Linked DNA regions of Homo sapiens: region 1 is linked to region 2. Evidence: fine-mapped expression QTL. A gene starts in region 2. The other region holds a variant in brackets. All regions are shown on one strand. Distances are between the middles of the regions.

Evidence for each region. PIP is the estimated chance that this variant, and not a neighbour inherited with it, causes the effect. A credible set is the group of variants that fine-mapping cannot tell apart.
Region 1: its variant is the best candidate, but not a certain one, in a credible set for the expression of LMBR1 in iPS cells (HipSci, PIP 0.71).

The regions. Positions count from the first base shown.
Region 1 is chr7:156,806,537-156,811,920 of GRCh38, forward strand. All of the region lies in intron 4 of LMBR1 (limb development membrane protein 1), which reads right to left. Among named protein-coding and RNA genes, the nearest start is that of LMBR1, 84 kb to the right of the region's middle. The variant C/T (reference allele first, on the strand shown) is at 2,300.
Region 2 is chr7:156,890,646-156,896,029 of GRCh38, forward strand. It overlaps LMBR1 (limb development membrane protein 1), which reads right to left and starts at 2,538. Exons shown (of 17, transcript NM_022458.4): 1 at 2,283-2,538. The coding sequence starts at 2,348. It overlaps LOC102723795 (a long non-coding RNA gene), which reads left to right and starts at 2,753. Exons shown (of 4, transcript XR_928253.3): 1 at 2,753-3,018; 2 at 4,787-4,867. RefSeq lists silencers at 1,630-2,129, 2,180-2,759 and an enhancer at 5,062-5,141.

The DNA of each region.
Region 1 (5,384 bases), 84 kb before region 2:
GGGGAAAGCATCCAGTCTTTCACCATTAAGTATGATGTTATCAGTAGGTTTTTTGTAGATGCTTTTTTTTTTTTTTTTTTTTTTTTTTTTTGAGACGGAGTCTCACTCTGTCGCCCAGGCTGGAGTGCAGTGGTGCGATTTCTCAGCTCACTGCAACCTCCACCTCCCAGGTTCAAGCAATTCTCCTGTCTCAGCCTCCCGAATAGCTGGGACTACAGGTGCACACCACCATGCCCAGTTAAGTTTTATATTTTTAGTAGGGACAGGGTTTCACCACATTGGTCAGACTGGTCTCGAACTCCTGACCTCAGGTGATCCACCCGCCTCAGCCTCCCAAAGTGCTGGGATTACAGGCGTGAGCCACTACGCCCAGCCTGATGCATTTTATTAGGATGAGAACATCCCATTTCAGGCCTACTTTGCTGAGAGATTTTACCAGAAATGGATACTGAATTTTGTCATATGCTTTTTCTGCATGTATTGTTACGACCATATGACTTTTTTTTTTCTAGCACGTTAATAAAATCACATGGATTGGCATTGCAAAAGTCATGATGTATTATCATTTTTATACAGTGTTACATTTGATTCGCTAAAATTGTATTTAGAACTTAAGCATCTATGTTCGTGACACTGGCCTGTCATGAAACTTTCAGTTTTCATGTATTGTCTGCCTGGTTTTGGTATGAGGGTAATGCTGACCTCAGTGAATTAGGAAATGTTCCCACATCTTCAATTTTCTAGAAGAATCTGTGCAGAACTGCTATTATTTCTTCCTTAACTATATGATAGAACTGACAGTAAATCCTCCTGGCCTAAAGCTTTATTTGTGAGAATGTTTCTAACATTCCCAGAATATTTGAGAAGGCTTTAATAGTTTTTGCCTGTTAAGGAAATTTGTCCATTTCTCTAAGTTGTTGAATTTGTTGGATAAAGGTGTTCATAATATGCAATTATTATCCTTTTAATCACTGTTCAATATGTAGTGATGTCACCTCTCTCATTCCTAATACTGGCAATTGGTCTCTTCTTTTTTGCTGATCATTCTGGCATTGTTTATCAATTTCAGTGTTCTTCTTGGTGATTTCCTGTTTTCTATTTCATTGATTTCCTCTCTCAAGATTTTTAAAGAAAGATTTCCCTTCTTTGGGATCTATTCGTTGACTCTGCAGAAACTGATTTGAGGCCTTTTTTCTGTTGTAATACAGGTATTTCGTGCTATACATTGACCTTTAAAAACTTTTTAGACACATCCCGCAAATATTAAAATGTTTTATTTTCATTTCATTCAGTTCAAAGCACTTTCAAATTTCCCTTTTGATTATTCTTTGACCAGTGAGTTATTGTAAAGTATGTTATCAATTACCAAATACTCAGGGATCTTCTAGATTGTTTCTAGGTAAGTTTTCTGACACTTATTTAATTTCATTGTCCTTACAGAGTGTATCTTGTATGACTTAAAATCCTAAAATGTATTGAGACTTATTTTATGGCAAAGAATGTGATCTCTCTTGGTAAATGCCCACATTGTACTGGAAAAGAATATGTATTCTATTCTTGGATGTTCTATAAATGTTAATTAGGTCAAGTCAGTTGATAGTATTATTCAAATCTTCTATATCGTGATTTTTTCTTCTATATGTTCTATCAATTATTGAAAGAAGGGTGTTGAAATATCTGAATGTAATTGTGATTCTGACTACACTTTCCGTTTTTGCTTCATGTACTTAATATATGTCATTAGGCAGATATATGCTAAGTATCATTAGGCTCTTTGGGTGAACAAACCACTTCAACATGATGAAATGATCTTCTTTATGACTGGTAATATTCTTTGCCCTTGTCTGATAATCATATAGCCACTCCAACTTTGCTCTGTTTAAAATTAGCATGGTGTATCTTTTTTCTCCTACTGCCATTGACCTAGTTTTGTCTTTACAGTGGGTATCCTGCAAGCAGATATACTTCAGTCTTGCTTTTATATTCAATTTGATAATCTCTGCCTTTTAGTTGTAGTGTTTAGAACATTACATTTAAAGTGATTATTGATATAGTTAGCTTTAAATCTATCAACTTGCTTTTTGTTTTCTATTTGCCCCATGTGTTAGCTTCCCTTCTTCTATGTTCCCACAGATTAAGTATTTTTTATGATTCTAGTTTATTTCCTTTGTTTACTTATTCACTATATCTCTGTTGGGCTATTTCTGGTTTGTCTTCAGGTTTATCATATACGCCTTTAACTCATCACAATCTGCCTTCAGATGATTTTATTGGCTGCTCTGCCAATGAAATAGCCATT[C/T]CTTTTATTCCTTTACTTTCTTAATAAACTTGCTGTCACTTAGAAAAAAAAAGATAACACTTCACGTAGAGCATGAGAACTTCACAACAGTGTGCTTCCGTGGCTTTCCTCCTGTGTGTTATCGTTGTCATATAACTTACTTGTACATCTATAATAAAATTCATAATACATTGTTACTACTTTTTAAACAGCCAATTATCTTTTCTAAACACAGGATTTTTAAAAAGCTTCTCTACATATAAACTGCTGCTTCTAGTGCTCTTCATTTCATTTTGTAGAGTTAGGAAATGAGTTAAGATATATTCCCTCGGGTTTGTTTAGCTCACGGTTCCTAGATATCTATCTCCTACCCACCTCCTACCACATGAAGGACAACCTGTAACATTTTTTAATGTACAGCTCTGCTGATGATGAATTTTTATCTTTTGTGTATCTGACACTATCACTATTTTGCCTTTGTTTTGAAAAATATTTTCACTGGGGATAAAACTAGACTGGCTGGGATTTTTCTTTTAGTACAATCCTCCCTCAGTGTCTGTAGGGGATTGGTTCCAAGACCTCCCATAGATACTAAAATCCACAGATGCTCAAGTCCCTTATGTAAAATGGCATGGTATTTGCATATAACCTATGCATATCCTCCTATATACTTTAAATCATCCATAGATTACTTACAATACCTAATACAGTGTAAATCTATGTAAATAATTATACTATATTGTTTAGGGAATAAGAAGAAAAAACTCTGTACATGCTCACTATAAACACAACCATCTTTTTTTCCAATATTTGTGATCCGTGGTTGGTTGAATCTACAGATCTAGAATCCACAGATCCAGAGGGCTGACTACACTGTTGCTACACTGTCACAACGTCATCTGGCTTGCATTGTTTCCCACCAGAAACATGCTGTGATTCTTATTATTGCTCCTCTGAACTTAACGTGTCTCTTTTTGTAGATGCATTTAAGATTTTCTCTTTATCACTGATTTTGAGCCATCAGATTACATGCGTTGGTACAGTTTTCCTCATGTTTCTTGTACATAGAACTGGTTAAGCTTCTAAAATCAGTGGGTTTATAGTTCTCATCAATTTTGAAATGTTTCTGCCATTAAGTTTCCAAATATTTTTCTCAACTCCCCTCCTTTAGAAACACCAACTACATCACTGATACCCTGTGTGTTAGCCCACTTTGCATTGCCATCAAGGAATACCTGAGGCTGGGTAATTTATTAAAAAAAAAAGAGAGAGATTTATTTGGCTCACAGTTCTACAGGCTGTACAAGAAGCTTGGTGCCAACAGCTGCTGTGAGGAGGGCCTCAAGCTGCTTCCATTCGTGGCGAAAGGCGAAGGGGAGCTGGCATATGCAGAGATCACAGGAGAAGACAGGAAGCAATGGAGAGGGGGTTGTGCCAGGCTCTTTTTAACAACCAGCTCTTATGAGAATAAAGAACTCACTCACCCACCTCCCGGGAGGGAATTCATCTATTCTTGGGGGATCTGCCCCACTGGCCCAAACACCTCCCACTAGATCCACCTCCAACACTAGGAATCAAATTTCTCTCTCTTTTTTTGAGATAGTGTCTCGCTCTGTCCTCCAGGCTGGAGTGCAGTGGCACAATTTCAGCTCACTGCAGCCTCTGCCTCCCAGGTTGAAGTGATTCTCCTGCCTCAGCCTCCCGAGTAGCTGGGATTACAGGCATGCACCACCACGCCTGGCTAATTTTTGTATTTTTAGTAAAAATGGTGTTTCATCATGTTGGCCAGGCTGGTCTCAAACTCCTGACCTCAAGTGATCCACCCACCCAGGCTTCCCAAAGTGCTGGGATTACAGGTGTGAGCCACCATGCCTGGCCCTGGGAGTCAAATTTCAACATGAGGTATGGGGGAATAAACATCCAAACTACAGCACTATTGTCACTTTTCAGCCATTTTTCCCTCTGTGTTTCACTTTCACATAGTTTTTTGATTTTTTTGTTTTTTGTTTTTTTACATGGAGTGTTGCTCTGTCACCCAGGCTGGAGTACAGTGGCGCAATCTTGGCTCACTACAACCTCCACCTCTCCCGGGTTCAAGCGATTCTCCTCCCTCAGCCTCCCAAGTAGCTGAGTCTACAGGCATGCACCACCATGCCTGGCTAATTTTTGTATTTTTAGTAGAGACGAGGTTTCACCAAGTTGGCCAGGCTGGTCTTGAACTCCCGACCTCAGGTGATCCACCCACCTCAGCCTCCCAAAGTGCCAGGATTACAGGCATGAGCCACAGCGCCCAGCCCCACTTTTGAATAGTTTTCTATTGCTATGTCCTCAAATTCATTAATCTCTTCTGCAATGTCTAATCTGCTATTAATCTACTGTTTTATATACTTTCACATCACATGCTATAGTTTTCATCTCTAGAATTTTGTTTTTTTACATCTTTTACATCTCAGTATGTTCAACATTTCCTCTAAGTTTCTGGAACATATGGAATAGTTATAAGAATTGTTTTCCTGGCCAGGCGCGGTGGCTCACGCCTGTAATCCCAGCACTTTGGGAGGCCGAGGCAGGTGGATCACGAGGTCAAGAGATCAAAACCATCCTGGCCAACATGGTGAAACCCCGTCTCTACTAAAAATACAAAAATTAGCTGGGCATGGTGGCACACGCCTGTAGTCCAGCTACTCGGGAGGCTGAGGCAGAAGAATCACCTAAACCCGGGAGGCGGAGGTTGCAGTGAGCCAAGATTGCACCACTGCACTCCAGCCTGGGCGACAGAGTCAGACTCCGTCTCAAAAAAAAAAAAGAATTGTTTTCATGTATTTGTCTACTAATTCTGACATCTCAGTTGCAGACTCAAGGTAGGCATAGTGGACAAGGTCCCCATGCCTGAATCCCCAGCCTTCTGTGAGTATGTTGCATGGTGTACTGGTTTTCTGGAACTGAGGAAACAAAGCACCACAAACCGAATGGCTTCAAGCAACAGAAATCTACTCTCTTACAGTTCCAGGGACTAGAAGTCTGAAATCAAGGTGTCAGCAGGACCACGCTCCTTCCAAAGTCTCCAGGGAAGAATCCTTCCTACTATCTGTGGGTGGCTGCCTGC
Region 2 (5,384 bases):
TAACACACTTGCTAGAATGACTAAAATTAAAAAGGACAGAAAATATCAAGTATTGATAAAGATGAGTAACAACCACACCTCTGAGACTGTCAGTACTGGCGGAAGTGTACACTGGTACAACCACTTTGGAAAATTGTTTTAAAGTATCTACTAAAGATGAACAAATGCACACTCTTTAACCTAGGGATTCCATTCCTAGGGCTATCCCCAACAGAAATGCACAAACATGTCCACCAAAAGCTATGTACAAAAAGTTCATAGCCAGCCCGGCGTGGTGGCTCATGCCTGTAATCCCAGCACTTTGGGAGGCCAAGGCAGGTGGATCACCTGAGGTCAGGAGTTCAAGGCCAGCCTGGCCAGCATGGAGAAACCCCGTCTCTAATAAAAATAGAAAAATTAGCTGGGTGTGGTGGTGTGTGCCTGTAATCCCAGCTATTCAGGAGGCTGAGGTAGGAGAATCACTTGAATCCCGGAGGCAGAGGTTGCAGTGAGCCGAGATTGTGCCACTGCACTCCAGCCTGGGAGACAGAGCGAGACTCCATCACAAAAAAAAAAAAAAAAAAAAAATATATATATATATATATATATACACACACACACACACACACACACACATATATACATACACATATATATACACATATATATATTCATAGCCAAAACCTAGAAACTACTGAAGTGCCCATCAACAGTAAAATGAAAAATAAATTGTGCTATAGTCACACAACTACTGCACCGAGAATGAATTATAACCACATACAACATGGAGAAATTTCACAAACATTGTACAAGAAACTGGACACAGAAGAGTATATACGGTAAGATTCCATTTACATAAAGTTCAAAACTAAGCAAAAACTAATCTATGATATTAGAAGCCAGGGCAACGTTTACCCTTGGTGGAGGAGAAAGTAATTGGAAGAGGGAAAGGAATCAGTCTCTGGGATCCTAGTAAAATTGTGTTTATTTATTTATTTTTTTATAATGGTAGAGATGGGGATTCACTATGTTGCCCAGGCTGACCAGTCTCAAACTCCTGGTGGATTCAGGAGTACACAGGCGTGTTTAGTATGAAATGATCTGAAGGGTACATGTATGATTACATGAACTTATCTCTGTGTATTTTAGCTTCAATTATAAAAATTACAACTAAATGTGTACCAAATTCCACTAACTCAAATTCCACCAGCTCAGACTTTATATGTCCTCTTTATTCAAAGTATGACTTCCAAAGTGATTCTCAATTTTCAAGATCAGTGAGTACACAAATTAGATAATTCTAAAGCAGAATTTTTTCACCTCAAACCAAGTGTGACTGAATCGTAGACAACTTAGGAGAGGCGTAAATATAAACATAAAAAATTGACATATTTTACAACAGTTATGAAAACACAGATAAACCCAATTACAATACATTCTAGAGCATCATGAAAAGATAAAAACATCAAAGTAGACTTTCCAAGGTCAAGTCCGCTTCCTGACTCCTGCCAACAGCACACATGGAACATGGGCCAAAAAAGAAGCTGCTTCCCTAAGAAGTTGCTTCCATAGCAAAATGGACTTTTGCTGAGGTCCTCACTCCCAAAAATAACCAATATTCTCATCCCAAACGGTAAGGTTTCGAACTCAACCCACGTGGGGGCTGGGGGAGATGAAAGAGGGATGGAAACGTGAGGCGCCAGGAGGGCAGGAGGTGTTGACCGGGACAAGGTAACCGGCCGGGTCCAAACGCGAGAGGCGGGCGGGCTCCGCGCAGCCCGGCCCTTCCCGGACCCGCCGGGCCCACCCAGGCTCTCCGGGACGCCTGCGCATCCACCTGCCTACCTGGCCTGGCGGCGGAGCGCGGGGGCGCGCACTGGCGGGGCCGCCGTCCACACCCCGAGGCGCGAGCCGCACACCCGCCCAGAGAGGAAGCCCCTGGGGTCCCAGAGCGCGGCGCGCACCGCAGCCCTCCCCGCGGGAAGGGAAGGGCAGCACCGAGGCCGCGGGGCGGGGGCGGGGTCGGGGCTCGAACGGAGGGAGCGCGAGGGGGCAGGGGAGGCAAGAGCGGAGCGGGGGGGCAGGCAGAGGAAGCGAAGGGGAGGGGAGGGGAGAGGAGAGGTGGGGAGGGAAGGGGAGGGGAGGGGAGAGGAGGGGTGGGGAGGGAGAGCGGCAGAGGCCGGGGCGGGAGGCGCGAGGCGAGGCCCGGAGGTGAGGGGTCCGGGGACCGGGGGCCCGGGGGCGGGGACGGAGGGCCCGGGCGGGCACGCGGGACTGTCAGGGCTGCCTCGGTCCCCACGCACCGTGGACTCCCGCACTTGGCTGTGGAAGTGCTGCTCCCGCGCCGACACCTCGTCCTGCCCTTCCATCCTCCTTCATGCCCGCCGCCGCGCCGCCCGCGTCCGCGTGCTCCGCCACACCATCGTCCGCCCGCCGCAGGGGCTCGGACAGCCGCGCCGGGGACCGGAGCCGGCACGGGCCCGCGAGCCGTGTTGGAACAGGTACCGCGACCACGACACCGGCCGTCGCCTCAGCAGCCTCAGACGAGCAGCTCTGACTAAGGGAGGGCGGGCGCCGCGCAGTCGGGGGCGGGGCGGGGGCGGGGCAGGGAGGGGAGGGGGCGGTGCAGGCATACGTCAGACGAAAGGCGCCGATGCGTCAGAAAAGCGCGCCTCGCGGTCTTCCGAGCTGCTGGGCCGGGAGGCGCTGAGGGGGCGGGGCCTTGAGGTCGCGGGGCGGGGCTCCGCCCACGCTCTCAGGGGCTACCCCAGTTAAGGAGGCGCTGTCCTGGCGTCGGATGGGGACGGGGAACGCGGCGAGGGCGCTGCGACCTCTGCCCACCTGGCCCGGCCGCAGTCTCGGAGTTCCTGTTCCTCACAGGAGCTAATTATTTATGACAGCTGCATGGTTCCCCTCCCCCAGTTACTCAGTGCTTGGCACTCGGCACCCCTTACTCAGCACTCAGTACCGCACTCGGCCTCAGGGGACCTGGGCAGAGGGAAGCAGGGAGTCTCCCGCGGAAACTCTTGCTCTGCCAAAGTAGGTTGAAAGGTCGGAAATCGGTGGTTTGGGGCCGGGCTTTGGGCGGAAACCCAGCTTCTCTGGGTCTGAGAAGGGTCTTGGGCTGCCCCACCTGGAAAACGCAGATAACCGAGCTCGCTAGACCCTTGCCAAGTCCTTCCGGTAGCTCGGTCACTAGGGTCAGTTTTATGACTCTCAGTGGACCCTAAACAGCACGTAATATATGTATTTTTCACCGCCAAATATATCAAACACAATAATTCACCCTCCGTTCCCTATTATCTTTCTTTTTGTTATAAAATTTGAATTTAAGGGAATGTTTATAATTTTACCTTAGGATTTATTTGGCTACGAGGAAGTCATTTAAATTGCTAGTGGCTGCGATTTTTGTTTTTGGCATCTTTGAGAATTCTTAGGAAGTGTGAAAATCTACAAATTGCTTTCAAATGTCATTTAGTTTTTGTTTTTGTTTTTTTTTTTTTTGAGACAGAGTTTCACTCTTGTCGCCCAGGCTGGAGTGCAATGGCGATCTCTGCTCACAACAACCTCTGCCTCTTGGGTTCAAGTGATTCTCCTGCCTCAGCCTCCCGAGTAGCTGGGATTACAGGCGCCCGCCACCACGCCCAGCTAATTTTTGTATTTTTAGTAGAGACGGGGTTTCACCACGTTGGCCAAGCTGTTCTTGAACTCCTGACCTCAGGTGATCCGCCCACCTCGTCCTCCCAAAGTGCTGGGATTACAGGCCTGAGCCACCGCGCCCGGCCGTTGTTTAGATTTTTATGAATCTAAATTTAACAGTCAATGAAGTTGTTGTAAAGTTCTTCAAAGACAAATATGTGGTAATTTAAACCTTGCCGTTTCTCTTCACAATTTTGAGTAGAGAAAATTTTTTCACAACTCAAACTTCTTATGGTGCTTGGCGAAGTTGGAGGCCCCGACACACGGTTTCTATGAGTTCACTATAGCTGAACATTGTGGTGGTGGGAGAACTTAGAGAACCTGAGGCTTGTTCTCAGCATGTGCCCTGCTGCCACAGGCTGATTGATCATAATCCAAGAACAACTGTCAACTGGTTAAATTCAACGTTCACCTTTATTTTTTAGAATGTCTTGGAGCCCTAAAGAACCTGGATAATTTCTGGGTTAATTCTCTCCAAATCAGAGGGCAAGCAGATTAGATTTTAAAGTGTATGGCATTTAAACACAGATTCCAGAAAGTGAATGCATGTAGTATTCCTCATCTTTTTAATGCAATACTCCAACCATCTAGACCTTTTGATTTTCTTTTATGCAATCATCCCTAGAGGTTTACCCACCACTGGTACTTGTAACACTTAACCCAGGGTAGTCAACTTCAACAATGGCCACGTACTCACCACTCCCTATACGCTCACCCTCTGCCATCTGGCTTTGTCCTTCCTCCCAGCAAGAAATGGACTCTACTTTCCAGCCCTGGAATCAGCCTGGCTGGGTGACCTGCTCTAGCCAGTGGGACATTGAAAAATACAAAACTATAGGAAAGTGCTTGTACATTAGGACTTGCCCTTTCTTACGGACCCTAGGGACCCTCAATGGCCACTGGCCACTGCATCATAAGCCCCAGCCCAGCTGAAGATAGGTGACCTGGTCACCTCCATCACCCCAGCCAACACCCTCTTTCCCACATCCCTAAACGCTGTTGTATAAGACCACATGGGCCATTGTAACGGCTTTGGCTTTTATTCTGGGAGAGGTTAGGAGCCACTGTGGGTTATTGACAGGTGTGATGTGATCTGACTGCTGCTCAGGGCCTGGACAGCAAATGAGGAAGACTTATTGCAGAAATTCAGAGCCTAGTGACCTGGACCAGGGTGGAGGCAGCAGAGGAGGTGAGAGGCGGTCGGTTTCTGAATGCATTTTGAAAGGAGGATTTCCTATCAGGATTTCCTATCACATGGGGATGTGGTCAGAAAAAGAGAAAGACAGGGAGGGCTCCAAGGCATCTGCCTTAGCAGCCAGAAGGACAGTTGCATCACCAAAGGGGGGGAAGGCTGCAGTTAGAACAAGTTTTGGAGAAAAGACACAGAGTTCTTAAAATGTGATGATGACACCTCCTGGCCACCAAGATATGCTGTGTGGATATGAAGTTTCATTTCATATCAGAAGAACATGGCTGGCAATAAACATTTAAAAATATGTTTCATCTCAACAATACCCAGGACATGCAAATTGAAACCTAAATGAAGTACCTTTTCACTTTCATTGGGTGGGCAAAATTCTTCTAATTTGACAATATTGAGTGTCACAAGAATGTGGAACAGTAGAAATTCTGTGCCACTGGAGGTCGTGTGAACCAATATGATATCTCTGTAAATAATTTGGCATTATCCAGTAAAGCTGAAGATA